2 separate regions of the Homo sapiens genome follow, and region 2 is linked to region 1. Evidence: fine-mapped expression QTL. A gene starts in region 1. The other region holds a variant in brackets. All regions are shown on one strand. Distances are between the middles of the regions.

The links. PIP is the estimated chance that this variant, and not a neighbour inherited with it, causes the effect. A credible set is the group of variants that fine-mapping cannot tell apart.
Region 2: its variant is the best candidate, but not a certain one, in a credible set for the expression of FOXD1 in fibroblasts (GTEx, PIP 0.71).

The regions. Positions count from the first base shown.
Region 1 is chr5:73,445,243-73,453,577 of GRCh38, forward strand. It overlaps FOXD1 (forkhead box D1), which reads right to left and starts at 3,535. Exons shown (of 1, transcript NM_004472.3): 1 at 1,024-3,535. The coding sequence starts at 3,120. The coding sequence ends at 1,723. RefSeq lists an enhancer at 1-187 and a silencer at 6,135-6,344.
Region 2 is chr5:73,315,049-73,323,383 of GRCh38, forward strand. No RefSeq gene overlaps it. Among named protein-coding and RNA genes, the nearest start is that of LINC02230, 19 kb to the right of the region's middle. RefSeq lists enhancers at 6,360-7,559, 6,840-7,447. The variant C/G (reference allele first, on the strand shown) is at 3,719.

The DNA of each region.
Region 1 (8,335 bases):
CATTAACTTGGTAAGTTAAATCTGCGAATCTTCAGATATATACCTGTCCAGACATTTTAAAGAAATTGAATATTTAATCTCTGCTGCAAACACTAATGTTAGACATTTAAATTATGTGTTACATATGCCTAGGTTTTATTTGGAGCGCACAACATTGTAGTAATCAAAACTAGTGCCTCACTTTTTTTCAAAGAACTAGAAATTTCATGTAATAATTAAAAGACATTAAAAATTGAAAAAGATAAACCTAAATCACCTAAATTCAATAAATTAGTTCAATGAACACCTGATACATTTTCATTTTTTATTCTTTAAAGCATCCCAAAGTTGAAGGTTTATCTTAAATACCCTAAATTATTCACTTAAGCTAGAATTTCAATAAATTGGCCTTTTAAGAGAAAAACCTCTTTATACAATTACTCGCATTCCTTCCATCTGCAACATAGTAGCTGTAAATACTGGTACTTTTAAATATGATTTATTTCATATATGCAAATATGTCCTTATTTACGGCTTTGAAGCTCCTTAACTGATTATGATCTCTACTAATTTTTCCTATTAGAATTTTAAAACTAGACTGCCTCTTTGTTTCACTTCCATTACAACATATTATGTTGACAGTTTCTGCAGATATAATATTGTCGTGAACTGAGTGGAAATTAAATGAGGAAGGAAGCTCAAAAATGAAATGCAAAGTTCCTATAAAATTATCTTTGGGTACCTGTGGCTTTAATTTTAACATACTTCAATGCGCTTTAAAATGGCATAGAGTCAGATCTGAAAATGTATACCAAAGTAACTTATTTTATTTGTAGTCATTTAAAAATAATTTCTGATCTCCTACCATGGTTTTCACTTAGGAAGTTCAAGTGAAAAATCATGGCATGATGCTGTTGTTAAATTCTCTCTGAAAGTATTTAAGTCTGTTCTATATTGAGTTCCTGCTTACCCCACATAGAAAGTTTTTTTAAGTAGAAAAGAAAAACTAAGAAGGGGACAACTGAAGCCAATCATTTTGGTGAATTTTCTTTGAAAATTAAGCATTTTTATTTCTGAAAAAGTGTAAAAATCTTACATTTAGAATAGTACAATAATAATTGCCAGTAAAATTTACAATACTCCTTGTAAAGAATACGCAGTAAGTACAAAAAAATCCACACGTCTGTTATGATACAAAACACAGGTTGAAATAAATGATAATTTTGACTTTTTTTCTTGTGTAAACATGTTAACCATTTTTCCTTTTCATGAAAAAGTACACCAGACAAGTGTCCTCAAATAAAAAAGAATTGCTTCGCTGGCATTCTTCAAGACCTTTACTATTTTTGTATTATTCTTTTGACCATTATTTTTTAACGCCTGGACCTGAGAATCTCTACACCTCAAAAAGGCTTAGTTGTTTTTCATCTGCCAAACGTCAAGGGAGCCTCTAGTGCCTGGACAGGGCGGACTCCCTTCCCCGGCACCCTCTTCCTCCCTACCCCAGGTCGGGGGTTGGGGGGCTGTAGCATAGGTCGGCTTTGCATAAATAGAGGGACCCGCAGAGCCAAAAGGCGCGCCCGGGCTGTTGACAGTTTTGTCCGAGAATTCGCAGCGGCGAAAATGGGCGCGCGAGGTCGAGAGGGGCCGCGCCTGGAGGAGCGAACAAAACACCGAACCACCAAGACGAGAAAAGGAGCCGGGATTCCTACCTTCTTCCTCGAGCGCGCTAACATAGCGTTATTAACAATTGGAAATCCTAGCAGTAAAGTTCTCGACACTGGACAGGGCAGTCCCTTGGTGCAGAGTCCCCAAGGCGGCGGACGAGGAGACTGAGGAGGCGGCGGCGGCCGCGGCGGCCACGAGGGATCGGGTGAGCGCGGCCGCCGGGCCCACGGCCGCCTGCGCCGCGCAGCCTCCTCCGCTGGATCCGGGAGCTGGCGGCGCCGCCACCGGCGAGGGCGAGGGCGAGGCCTGAGCGGCGGCGGCGGCCTGCGCGGCGGCGGCGGCAGCGGCGGCCGGGCCCAAGCTGCCCCCGATGATGCTCTCGATGGAGAAGGGCGAGCGCGCCAGCGCTGAGGCGCCCGGGCCGCCCGCCTTGGCCGCGGAGGCCGGCAGGGGGCCGGGTAGGGCGGCGCCGAGCGGGTGCGGCCGGTAGCCGAAGGCGGTCCGGGCCAGCTCGGCGGCCGCGCCGTGCGGTGGCGGGGGCGGCGGGGGCGAGTGCGGGTGGAAGGCGGCGGCGGCGGCGGCGGCCGCTGCGGCGGCGAAGAGGGCCGAGGGCGGCGCGTAAGGCGGCAGCTGCAGGCCGTAGCCGCAGCCGTAGGGGCCGTAGCCGTAGGCATGCGGGGGCGGCGGGGGCGCGGGCGGGAAGAGCGCGGCGGCGGCTGCCGGGTCGCCCGCGCCCCCTGCGGCTCCCGCGCCGCGCAGCAGCAGAGACTCGGCGGCCGCGGCGTTGGGTGGGAGCAGCGGCTGCCGCTTGAAGCGCTTCCTCCGGCGCAGGAAGCTGCCGTTGTCGAACATGTCGGCGGACTCCGGGTCCAGCGTCCAGTAGTTGCCCTTGCCCGGGTTGCCGGGCTCGCGGGGGATCTTGACGAAGCAGTCGTTGAGCGAGAGGTTGTGGCGGATGCTGTTCTGCCAGGCGGGGAACTTCTCCCGGTAGTAGGGGAAGCGGCCGCTGATGAACTCACAGATCTCGCTCAGCGTCAGCCGCTTCTTGGGGCTCTGCAGGATGGCCATAGTGATGAGCGCGATATACGAGTAGGGCGGCTTCACCAGCGGGTTCTTGGCGCCGCTACCCGCGCTCCCGCCGCCGCCCGCGCCGCCGCCGCCGCCGCCCCCACCGGCTCCTGCCCCCGCCGCCGGGGCCGGGCCCGGGGGCGCCGGGGAGCCCCCAGCAGGCGGGGCCAGCAGGATGTCATCGTCGTCCTCCTCCTCCTCCAGATCCTCCAGCTCGTCCTCCCCGGCGTACGAGCGCCGCCGCCGCCGCCGCTGCGCGGGGACAGCCAGCCGGGGCCCGCCACCGCCGCCCTCGTCGTCGTCCTCCTCTTCCTCGTCTTCTTCGTCCTCGCCCTCCCCCACCACGTCGATGTCTGTTTCCTCGGCGAGGCCAGAGGCATCGGACATCTCAGTGCTCAGGGTCATAGCTGTGGCGCGGCGGCGGCGGGGCGGCGCATGGGGGCGCCGGGCTCCGGGCTCCCTCTGCGCCCCAGCCCGGGTCCCGGGCGGCAGGCCCGGCCGGGGGGCGCCACGCTGGGGGCGCTGCGACTGCGGCTGCCGGAGCTGCGCCGGGGCTGCCGGGTGGCGGCGGAGTCTCGCGCGCCGACTTTATAACTCCTGCGCCGCCGCGGTAGCCGCGCGGATGCTGCGCTCCCTGGGCTCCGCTCGCGCCCGGCCCGGGCGGAGGACTTGACCTTCTCCTCTCGGAGCAGCTTTTGCCCCGTCAGCTGAGGAGGGGGTGGCGGGGCCCGGGCGGGCGAATCAGAACGCCAGGCGCCCAGGAACGTGCGGGACGGGTGAGAGTCTAAGAACAGAGCTCGGCGAGGCCAGGGCTGAGTCCAGGAGAGGGCGGACCTTCCTCGGCTTATAGCAGAAGGGGGCCTGTCACATGGTGTGCACGTCAGAGCGCTGCCGAGGGAAGGAAAGCAAGCCTAGGAAATCAGCCCTTCTCGGGAGAGAAAATTCACCCGTAGGAGGGAGGCAGCAGCTGAGAAGAGTGGGGAGGAGAGGGGACCTCACTATTTCTTGCCAAAGAGGCTGATGCCCGAATTACGCGGCTGTCTGCACCGAGGGCCGCTGCACGAGTTAGACTTCCCAGCCTCCTCAATTAGTCCTCCACCCTAACCTCAGAAGCACACCCGCGACACTCTGGTTTGACCCCTCGACAGCCTGTAGGAGCCTTCCAGCCGGGGGATAACCACCCCATCCTCTGAGGTGGCCCCTGGGGGACGCTCTGGGGTCGGTTGGGGGTGTCCAGCCCCTCCAGATCGGGCGAGCGGCCCCCCATTGGATCTGATGCGAAGCCCCCCAATTTAAGCACGATAATAATTGTTTATTGACCCTTTAACCCATTCTCTTCGGTTTTACTCCAAAGACGTTTGTTTTCCGCCATCTGTTAATAAAAACGCTGTGAGACTGGCGTTTTACTCACTTCTCTGCGATTGAATGCCCTAGAGACTTGACAGTTAAACTAAGCCACTCTAATGAGACGATCTGACAAATGTCATGGGAATAAAGAACGTAATAATTGAATTCGGAGAAGAAATTGAAATTTTTAGTGAAAACCCAAATACACGCACAAAAATTGCACCTAGAAACTACTAAAAAGTTCGACCAGCCTGGCCAACATGGTGAAACCCCGTCTCTACTAAAAATAGAAAAAAATTAGTAGGCGGCGCCTGTAATCCCAGCTACTCGGGAGGCCGAGGCAGGAGAATCGCTTGGACCCGGGATGCGGAGGTTGCAGTGAGCCGAGATCGTGCCACTGCACTCCAGCCTGGGCAACAAGAGCGAAACTCCGCCTCAAAAAAAAAAAAAAAAAACAGAAGTTCGTTCATAATGGGGCTATATAGTTCTCAGTAGGAGGAACATTCTAGTCAGCACTTTGCATAGTAATCTCAAAATACTTAAATTACATAACATATACATATTTCTACTGAGGCTTATTAATAGAAACTATAATGATAGATGACTTTAAGATAAACTTTTTAAAAATGTGTTTTTGGAAAATCCTTAAATATTGTTAATCCTTTCTGGTGAGATGAAAATTTTTTTTATGAGATTAAAGTTCCGCTCAATTCAGTTTTCTTTTCGGGTGACAAGATAGTGGAAATAATTAAGATATGATGCTCTTTTAAATATACCTATCTTTATCACCAACTCAAACGAGCTATTTTGGCTAGTGGAAAAATCCTAATAGTTTGTTGAATTCACATTCACTTATTTGTGCATTTCCTAAAATGCTTCTATTTCAAAGAGGGGAGCTTGTCCCAAAAGTTTAACTTTCTGATTAAAATGACCCCTTGACAAGAACTAAGAATCAAAATTCAATGGCGTTCTGTAGGAACAGCCATCAGCTGCCCTTGTGTATATCATTTTATCGACCAAGTACTTTTCACATTCTGAAACGTGTCATTACTACCGCTGTCAATCACAGAGCCTCAGAAATAAACTGTTTCCCCATCTAAAGACCTCTATTAAAATCGAGTTTTTGTTGCTGAGGACTGCTACCACCAGTTACTCTTACAAGTGACCCATAAAGGCTATCATAGGTCTTTGAACAATCTATGAGAAAGCCTCGACGTTCTAAATAAATTATTTTTCATTAACTCTTGTTTGATATATGGGTGAACAATTTAATTACTGTAATAGGCTGAGCATTAACCTGAGCCAACATTAATCAGCACTATTAATCAGGCATCACATTGCTTTGTTGATGCAGCCAGGAGTCCTTACCAAGGAGTTCACTTTTACATTGGAAAGTTTAAGTTTTATAAGTACTCAGTCGATATCTAAATAAACACCATGACTTTCGCAGCACTGAGGGTTGGTGTGTGGCGAAGTTATTCAAAGATGAAACAGAGAGGAAGAATTTGTTCGCAGACCATTAATGACTTTAGATGACCGGTTACAGCCATCATTCCGTTCATGGCGCGGGAGATAGACTGCGTTCGTTTGTAACTTTGTCCGCAAGTTCTTCCCCCAAAGGGTTAAGAGGCTCTTCCCTGGAAACGTTTGCAGAATGTGGCGAATTATCTCCTGGCCACTCCGGGGAAAGTTTTAGGACTTACTGAAGGTCAGAGTGGAAGATCAGCCCAGAGGGACCGCTGCAGAGACGGAGAAGTGTCACTAAGATTTAGGCGAGCTTTACTGAAGCCCCACATGTGGATGTGACCACTTGTTTTGTTTGCTTAGTTAAGCTACATGTTTGTATGCAACCTTTAGCTCCGCAGTCGCGAAATTCCCCGAGCGCGGAAACTCAAGCGATTCACGTCTTGCGCGACCCCCTTGTCTCCCCCATCGTCCCCTACCCCGGGCCTCCTTCTCTACAGCGCTCCCAGCTTTCGGCCCCAGCTGGTAACTCTCCCCCGGCTCCCCGCCCCCAAGCTGGTACAAGGGACCAAAACCTTTCCCAGAGGCGAGCCGGGGAAGCGACGCGAAGACCCCCGTCCGGCGCAACCCGCTCGCGTGGACGCGGAAAGTGGCGGGCGGCGGGTCCCGGTGGTGCCTGCGTAGGGCAGAGTTGCCCCCTGGCGGCGGTGCGACGACCTGCGGGCCCTCGCGCCCGGGCCGGCAACTCCCTGGGAGCTCGGCCCGCGCGGGGAACTCGCCCAGCAGCCTGTGTTTCTCGAGTGTGGGCAGCCGGCTCCCGGGCGTCCCTCCCACCGGCTGCGGGGGCCCGGGACTGGGCGGTAGTGGAGGCAGGTCCTTGGACTGCAGGCTGAGGCTTTTTCCCCCCACGAGCGGTTTGGGCCCTCCAGGAGCCCCTGCGCGGGGGTCACGTGGATTACGCTAGGTGAGAGCCGGAGAGGCTGCGCCACCGTCGGGAGGCTCCCTGCCTCCGCCCTTTGTCCTTTGCCCCTGACCATGAGCGCCCCAAGCCCAGGGACCTCCTTAGGGGGATGAAGGCTGGAAGAGACCTGGGGGCTCAGACTTACGGGGAAGGAACCTAGGCTATTCCTTGTGCATCCCAGGATTTTACCCATGAACGTGAACATGAACGTGTTTTCAACCCCAGCGGTTCCCCTGGCGCCTCGACCCTCCTTTGAAGAGTCATTCTAGAAGGCTGTATTGCGATAGTGTTTGTACCTGTCACTGTGAGCCCTGAAAAGAGACAGAAGAAAACGCGAGTGCCTGGCCTGAGGGTGCTCCGTCCCGTGGGTAGCCAGGTAGGTAGTTATTCTGCCCGATGATGAGGTCCTCCTGACGCCCCCGCGAAAGGGAGGGATGCCGGGAGTCGCTGCCCCAGGGCCCATTTAGCCTTCGCTGTCCTTCCTTGGGGCTACAGGCATTTCCATTCCTGTTAAAATCAAGAGTGTGGGGGCCAAAACCTGGGCTCTGAGTTGTTTATTGTTTACTAGGGTAGTAGGGGAAGGGGCGAGTAGGGTTGTAAAATATACGTAATTTACCATTTTAATCATCTTAAGTGTATAGTTTAGAGGCATTAAGTACATTAACATTGTTGTGCAACTATTACCACTATCCATTTCCAGAACTTTTCCATCATCCGAAACTGAAATTTTGTACGCGTTAAAAAGTAACTCCCCATTTCCCCAACCATCTTTCTACTCCCCCCAACCTTTCGCCAGCCCCTGGCAACTACTATTCTACTTTCTGTCTCTATGAATGTATCTACTCTAGGTACATCATCTGAGTGGAATCATAATCACATTTGTCCATTGTGTCTGACTTATTTCTCTTAGCATAATGTCTTTAAGGGTCGTCCTTGTGGAAGCATGTATCAGAATATCTTCTTTTTTACGGCTGAATAATGTTCCATTGAATGTATATGCCACATTTTGTTTATCCATCCATCCATTGGTGGACATTTGGGTTGCTTCTCTTTTTCTGTTAGTTTTTGAACCTCCACTCACTTAGTTCTTTGTCTATTCTGCATGCAGTAGACACTGATAAAATGTTTGATATATTCATTTTCCTCTATCTTTTTCACCCCAGAAGCCCTCAAAGGAAGCCCATTGTCTTAACAGAGCATACACATTGGGGAAGTGAGGGGGGACGGTTTCTGCTGACAGAACAACATAAGGGGGATTCGCCCTTCTGGATTTGAAACCTCAACTTGTTCACAATTTTGAGACTTTCAGGTTCAGACTCTGCACATCACCTTCAGTAAAAAGGCATAAGTCGGGACTCCTCCAGAATTATTTCTGGACAAATTTGTGATCATCCCTACTCCCACCCCATGCTTTTACACCCTTAGTCCCCCTCCTTATCTGTCCTGATCCTTGGGAGCCCCAAGATGATCTAAAATTTTTCTCTGGCTGTCTAGGGCACTCCACTTCAGCATTCTCCTGTGGTGTAACATTACCTGCCACTCATGCTGGTTCCCATGCGCCAAGCTAATTTCAACAACGGGTGAAGTGGGTATCTCCATGTGATGGCTGAGGAGACAGATTCTGGGTGTTGCTACTAAGCCTCATGGAGGCAGCCATGACAGAGCAGAGCCTTCTGTCCTCCTGTTCCAGGTCAGCAGCCTCTCCCAAGGCAGGACTCCATGGGCCAGCCTCTTTCCTCCCCCACCCTGCTTCTTCAGGCCAGCTCTTATTTGGTCTGACAATAAGTCTGAGGTAAGCTGTTACTGGCTGACGGTGTTTGGTGCCTTTCCCAAGAATGGGTACATTTT
Region 2 (8,335 bases), 130 kb before region 1:
GGTTAGTTTGAGCCCTCATTGGAAAGTTTATTTTCATTGAGTGTATGGATTGTTGTGTATCTACAGTTGCAGTTATGATAAGTTTACAGGAGAAACATCATATGACCACATCCTGTTACATGGACATTCTACCCATGAGATGGAATGGAAATAAAGTACTGAGATGAACAATAAGCTGTAACAATCAGCCTTGACAAGGAAATGCCACAGTCTGAGATTCCAATTCTGACAGGAATTGACTTTAAAAAAATCCACATAGAACCCCGACTTCTTTCCACCATATTACACTTTGTACTACAATCCCTGTTTTACAGAAAAGCCCATAAGGTAAGCATAGCACTCAATAAATATTGATTGAATAAATAAATATTGAACCTAATGAAGTTCTTAACATTCTACTAGCTTTTTAAAATAGCATTTTAGAAAATAACTTACCACTGGCCTGGTGGATAGAGATCCATTTGATCAGAAGTTAGGAGATTATCTTGACCTTCAGAAATGATGAACTGTTCTAAACTTTGATTTCTCTTTTAATAAAAAGTTAACATTCTTTTCCATCAAATCACATATTAGAGAGTATTATTTAAGTGAGGTCTGAAAAAAAATCTTGATTTTCTAACCAATGAAAGTAATACAAACTTATTTTACCAGGTTAAACAATGCAGAAATGCATAAATTATGCAAAATGTGGTAGGACTCTTACCTAAGTCAGTGCCAGTCTTCAGAGGTAGCCGTGGTTAACAGTGCAAAGTATAACCTTTCAGTAGCACTTTTTTCTGTGCACTTCTAAATGTACAGAGTTGGGGTTTTTTTTTTTTGTTGTTGTTGTTGTTTTGGAAACAGGGTCTTACTCTGCAGCCCATGCTTGAGTCCAGTGGTGAGATCACAGCTCACTGAAGCCTCAAATTCTGTGGGCTCAAGTGATCCTCCCACCTCAGCCTCCCGAGTAGCTAGGACCACAGGTGTGTGCCACCGTGCCTGGCTATTGTTTAAACTTTTTGTGGAGATGGGGTTTCGTCATGTTGCCCAGGCTGATCTCAAACTCCTGGCCTCAAGAGATCCACCCACCTTAGCGTCCCGAAGTCCTGGGATTACAGGCATGATCCACTGTGCCAGGTGAGATTTTTTTCATTAAGCAAAACATGTATCATATGATAAATATTATTTTTCAATTTGCTATTTTTCTTAGTGAGATTTTTACATTCATGTGCTAGAACAGTGTCTAGGCCAGCCTTCAAAGAAGAGGATGTCTTTTGCTCATTAATCCATTCAACAAACATTTACTGAGTCTTTACTGTATACCTGGCACTGTTCTGGGTGTTAGGAGGCAGCAGAAAAGGAGTCCCTGCCTACACGGCTGACTTCCCTGCCTCGGTACTCAGTGTCTCATTGTGAGTGTCTGTCGCCTACCTCTTGAACCTTTGGGGAATGCACATTTTAGTTACTGGCTGAAACATCTGATTGCAAATCTTCCATGGGAGTAGTTTACACTAAATTCTAAAATTTAGTTAAATAAATATATTACCTAATAGGGCTTTACTACATATGTTTTTGAAACCAAAAGATGTTCTTATCTTTGAGTTTAGACTAGAATATATCTTGTTTCCTGTTGCTTTGTTTGAATATCATTGATATGTGAATACAATATAGATGTAGTTCTTTAATGTCTAGTGAAGGGATTTGTAATCTCCATTGTACCACCAAGTTATCCCTAAATCATACCACCAACCACCAGAAAAATCATGCCTTGGCAGGAAGGGAGCCTGTTCTCAAACACTGCGGAGAAACTGTTGTCCTGGCTTGGATAGTATTCTGGAATAAGGGTCATCTTCAAATGGACTGTCTTAGAGTAAAATAAGAAATGCCTCTGGATCTTCTTTTTTCATATTTTTTCCATGCCAAGGGTTTATACACACATGCACACACTTAAGTCCTTTATTGCCTAGAATCTTAGCTCCCAGAGCCCTGGAATCAATGGCAATCACTGCTCAGGCCCCAGTAGCTTCCTCTTAGGAGTAAATTCAAATTCTGTACTAAAAGAAATATCCGGGAGGCTATTTCTTAATGCTATCTTCCTCCCTCACACCTGATTGGTTATGACAAAGAGGCTGAGCCTCAGTCCCTCCCCTGAGGCTGCTGGCCTGGTTAATCTGTCCTCCAGGTCTCCCATGGGCACCTAGAGTTAAGCGACCAGCTGTACTGTACAAAGATTCTATTGAGGCTCAGCTCCAGTAACTTGCTGGCTTTGTCAGGGTAGCATTTACAACTGCGTGCTGACCTTGCTTGGCCCACAGTAGACTGTGTGGGCATTTGTACAGCCCCATGTGGGAACATCTCTGTCTAATTCTCAACCTTGGGCAAGAACTTTTCAGGTTCTGGCAGCCAAAATGAACTGCTTGGAAGACAAAGAAGCATTTGCTGGGGTCTGAAAATGAACCTCTCCTAGGTGAATCAAGGCAGTTTCTAGAGCCTGGTAGGGCTAGGCTGAGGTTGGGAGAGCTGCCTGTGGGAAGAAGCAGCCCCATATGAGCCCCAAGCATCCCTGCACGCCCCTGCTGAGAGTGCCAAACTGCAAGACCTAGCAGCCTTCTCACCCTGAGCCTTTATTGCAATTAGTCATGTGGACCATTAAGCAGGTCAAGGTGACCATAGCAAGACTGCTGTGCTGAACACTCACTCCCCGGTGGAGGGCAATTGAGTTGTTCACTGCATGATGTAAAAGGTGCTGAGTTCTTGGCCCTGGATTCCTTAGCTGTGGCATAATCCACTGTGTGCATGGTTGCCCTCTGTGCCTATCATGTCTCCTGTGGAACTTGGGGATAGGGAATCACCTCTATTACTGATGTTCCTCCAGTTTGCTGTGTTGTGGATAATAAACTGACTTGAGTCTCACTATCTACTTTGGATACCTATGGAATCGTAGCAAGCCAACCTGCTGGCTTGCTGTACTAGTAGTACCCTATTGCTTCTGTAACAAATTACCACGAACTTAGTGGCTTAAACAACACAAATTTATTTTATAGTTCTGGAGGACAGAAGTCTGAAATGAATCTAAAATGCAGGTGTTTCAAAGAAATGGTAAGCGTTTATTACCAGGAGATGTGTTTATTGCTAGGAGACATGTTGATTACTCTGATTTGATCATTACACATGGTATATATACATGGATAGAAATATCCCTCTGTATTCAGTAAATATGCACAATTATTACATGTCAACTGAAAATAAAAGAAAAAGAAGAAAAATAAATAAATAAATAAAATCAAGGTTTTGGTTGGCAGGCCTATATTCTCCAGAGAAGAATCTGGAATTTTTCAGCTTCTAGAAGCTGTCAGCATTCCTTGGCTCATGGCCCTTTCCTCCATCTTCAAAGTGCATAACCACAACCTCTTCTTTCATCATCCCATCTCATCTTTCTTTGTTTAATCTTGCCTTCCTCTGCCTTGTGCTTACATTGAATTCACCTCATCATCTCAAGATCCTTAATCACAGCTACAAAGCCCCGTTTGAGTACATAATCACAAACTCTGGGATTAGGACAAGAACATCTTTCAGGGGTCATTATGCAGCCTGCCACACTTGCTTAGTCACATTCTTTGGGCTCTTGTCACTTCTTGCCATCCTCTATGATGTCACTTTTTGCCTGATACTCCAGAACCCAGTGCTAATAGCAGAACACCCTTTAGCTCATAGTAGGACAGAGCAGAGCAATCTGTCT[C/G]TTTTGATTTGACCTGATGGTCTGGTAAGAGGGTACAATTTGCTACTCCTAGGCCAAACTCAGAGGTCTAGCACCTCTAGAATGAAGCTCCATGAAGCCAGAGACTCTTGCCTGATTTATTTATCAGTAAGCTCCAATGCCTAAAACTGTGCCTTCTGGAACATAATAGGTGCTTAATAAATATTTGTTGAATGAACACATTTATTCAGCTTGCTTGTTGCTGGCTGCCCACTTCTACTCAGACATGAATTTTTTAAATTACTCGTGATAGGAAACCCTTTATCTACGTAATAGATTTACTTTCTCCATCTTGAGTCTCAAAATTAGATGCCTGATGGTGCCTTTATCAAAATAAGGAGTATGGGAGAAGGAGCGGTTTTCAGAGGGAAGATACTTTCTGTTCTGTACATACTAAGTTTGAAGTGCTGACGAGTCAACCAGGCTGCGATGTCATGCAGGAAGTTGGAAATGTGGTAGCGAAAAAATGGCAAGGTTGGAAATACAAATTTAGGATTCAACCACACGAAAAATATAGATGAAGTCACAAGATTGATTAAAATGTCAAGGGAGAGGATGTGGAGAGAAAAGAGAAGAGCTCATTTGGTTAATTCTGCAGCATCTAAAATTAGCATGGGTGCCAACAACATATTTTGGTAATAGTCATACATATTAATGATCATGCCCACTGACACATATATTTTTAGATTCAAAGGTTCTAGTAAGAACATATTTCTTACCTGTGACACCCTATTTCCTGTCCTCTCCTAGCCTCAAGCCCCTCTTCCAGGATTGAGGTTTCTTGTATTTACTCACCCACTTTTATTTAAAAAAAAAAGCAAACCTCTCCTAAGGTTTCTGTCCCACCTGTGGGGCCCCTGAGCCATGGTCCAGCAGTTTTCTTCTCCCTGTACACCCTCCACATTTGCCACCAGACCTTTCATACCACAGAGCTTGAAGCACCTGAACATGGGATTGATGGGCTCAGGCAGCTTCTGCATGGTAGTGCCTGCTTGAATTTATTGCCACCACCACCAGTCCCAACCAGACACCAGGATCTGAACTGCGTTGGACACCCAGTCCAGATTTCTATCTGAAAATCTTTTGCTATGGTCTTTTAATTGCAGGTTTTATGGAGACAAAAAGAAATGGCTGACTTTAGCCTCATGATGAGAATGGTGTTATGTATGGTTAACTTGAGCATATTGTAAGCAGTGATAGAGTTTCTGCTATCTGCTCATAATTCCCTCTTCTCCTCAAAAAAAAAGTAGTGAAAACTCATAGCCAGTGTGGGAGCCAGCTTTCAAGATGGCCTCTGGTGGTGTTCACCTGCTGGTCTTCACAACTGTTGTATGCTTCCCTTCCATGTTATAATAGATTGATTCTGTACGGCCAATAGAATATGGCAGAAGTGTTGGTATGTCACTTTCAAGATTTAATTATAAAAGGTACAGATATATTAACCTATTAACCTATAAGTAGAGCAATCTATCTCTCTAATCACTCATTCTGGGAGAAGCCATCAGCCATATTGTGAGCTGCTCTGTGGAGAGGCCCAGATGGTAAGGAACTGAGGCCTCCTGCCAACAGCCATGTGAGTTCGTCATCTAAGAAGTGGCTCCTCCAAGCCTCAGCCAAGCCTTCAGATGACTGCAGCCCCAGCCAATATCTTCACTGAAACCTTCCAAGAGACCCCAAGACAGAAGCACTAGCTAAACTGCTCCTGAATTTCTGACCTACAGAAACTGTGAGATAATAAATGTTTGTTATTTGAAACCATTCAGTTTTAATGGTAGTTTGTTATGCAGCAAGATAACCAATATAACCAGGAATGGGGATCACCCCACACTTATTCCTCCTCTGGATGTCCTAGCTCAGCTAAGCTTCTTCTTGGCCCTTTACCACTCTTGTCATCAGATGGTCTGCCCTGAGATGAGAACATCTTTGCACATGAACTTGCATAATCAGCCTTAACCTCAGTTCATAGGCTAAATTAAAAATTGTTAATAAAGATGTGGAAAAATAATTATTTTAACTGGTATCTAAAGAAAAGCAAATTAATACAAATATAAAATTCTATTTTTTATTTATCAAAATAGTAAGGTTTTAGAAAACATTGATACTTAATGGTGAAAAGGTGGTTCAATCCTTCTGAAATGTATTAAGAACATTCAAAAATTTTGATCTTTGATGCAGAGTTGATTATACTTCTAGGAATAGATCTGATGAAAGTAATGAGAAATGCAGATAGAAATTTATAGCTAAAGATATTCACTACAGCATTTACAGTAGCCAAACATTAGACACAACCTTTGGTCCAACAATAAGGGATTTGTTTTTAAAAAAAGTTATGGGCCGAGCACGGTGGCTCATGCCTGTAATCCCAGCACTTTGGGAGGCCAAGGCAGTTGGATCATGAGGTCAAGGGATCGAAACCATCATGGCCAACATGGTGAAATCCCGTCTGTTCCAAAAATACAAAAATTAGCCAGGCGTGGTGGTGCATGCCTGTAGTCCCAGCTACTCAGGAGGCTGAGGCAGAAGAATCACTTCAACCGTGAGGTGGAGGTTGCAGTGAGCTGAGATCACGCCACTGCACTCCAGCCTGGTGACAGAGTAAGACGCTGTCTAAAAAAAAAAAAAAAAAAAAAAAAGGTACATTTATTTTATTTGAAATTATGTAGCTACTGAAAACTAAGGTTATAAAGTTTTTTACTATGTGGAAAATGTTTCAGTAAAAATATAGGACACAATTATAAACGCAATATAGCCTTAGTTCTAGAAATGTAAATATGCATGAATCGAAAACTGGGGAAAAATGTGCTAAAATATTAGCATCAATTATTGTTTGAATAATCCTCCCCAGCAACGATTTGGAACAATTATTTTCTTCTCCATAGTCCTCAGAATTTTTAGAATTTTCACATTGGAGAGGTATTACTTTTAAATCAGAAAATAAAATGTTTAAAAATTGCATAGATGTAGGCAGTATAGCTTCTTAAAGTATCCAGTATTTGCCTTTGCCTTTTATCCATGAACCACAATGTTTTGGGTGATTCATGAATGATTCACATCAAAAGCCCTGGCCTATCTAAAATTTCATATTTCTTCTTGCTCTTTCAGGTAGGAGATTAATGAACATTCCAGAATGAGACTATGGCGTGGGAAGGAAGTGTGTAATGAACCCAGGAGGATGCCTAGGAGATGTGTCCATTGTAGCATTCTAGGTGTGACCACAAAGTGCCCAGCATGTGGCATTCTGAAGAAGGCCCTATGAGCTCAGCATTCTATTTCCTTTACTCAGAATGGAAGCAGGAAGATAGAATTCAATTGCAAAATGTTGGTCACTGACTCTGAAAAGGATTCAAATTACTGACAGCTTAAAGTAATCAATGCTATGAAAGCCATAATTATCCCAATACTGCAAAGATTTGGAGGTTTAACAACAACAACAACAACAAAAACCAGTTCTCCCAATCTGTGTCTTTCTGTCTGCATCTCTGTGGTTACATAACTAGAAAAGGGCCGGTTCAGGAATGAATCCCAGATGGCTCCGCTCAGTGTTTGCTTTGAAGTCGGTTCAATTCGATTTATCTGGTCTGTGGTTTGAGGATAGGGTGGAAGGATCCAACTACACAACAGTGCCCAGACCCCAGAGTAGGGACAGAACATCTGCTTCCTGGGCACAAGTGCATGAGGAAAGGATTTACCCTTCAAGGGTGTTGATTCTGATCCTGGCTACATGGGGGAGAGGGGTGTGGGGTGTTGCTTCCTGGCCTGCTCAGCCTGGGGTCTCGGGGGCTGCTTCTCACCCTGCTGTGTGAAAGCCATGGCTGTAAGTCCCAGCCAAGCTTGGCCCCACGGGTCTCCTACACCCAGGAAGGTGTCAGACCATCTCAGCTGGGTAAGGTCAAGTGGGGCCCCGGGGTTCCGCCCTTCATTGTGGGTCTTGGTATTTATAGCTTCTCGCTCTGTTCATTTTCTCTCAGGTGGTTAATTATATCATTTCTCTCTCCAGTTTTCTGAAAGGAATAATTGACTCAAGAGGCTGGCCTGTCAAATATTTGTGTAGGGCAGTGTGCAGTGACTGAGGAAGGCATGGAAAGTGAGACAGTGCCATTGAGAATGGCGGGACCACAGAAGGCCAGTGCCAGGAAGGCACTAATGTCATCTAGTTCCCAGGCTGCAGACCCAGATGGCTACAGGGACAGAGCAGGTTCCCTAAAGGCGGGAACTGGGCTGGTATTGAGCAGAGGGACTGTAGGTCGGAGAGTGCGCACCCTTCCTAAAGATATGCAAATAAAAATGTTAATAATAATTTGTAGCCCAAAGAAAACACAATTGCAGGTTGGATTTGGCCCAAGGGTCAGCATTTGGACATTCTTGGGTGGTCCTGCACCTTCAATGTACAGACAATAAACAGGTCCAGGGACCTATCCAGTTGATGACTAGCCGAGCCTAGAACACTAGTCTTCCAGCTCCCTGGCCAGGGGACCTTCTGGTCTAGATCTCTGCTGACAAACTGACGCTGTGACAGCCCCTCCACCCTGCACCCCATAATGACAGTTTGACAGAAAAAGAAAAAGCACTCTGTCAACCCCTACTTATTTCAGGAAATGG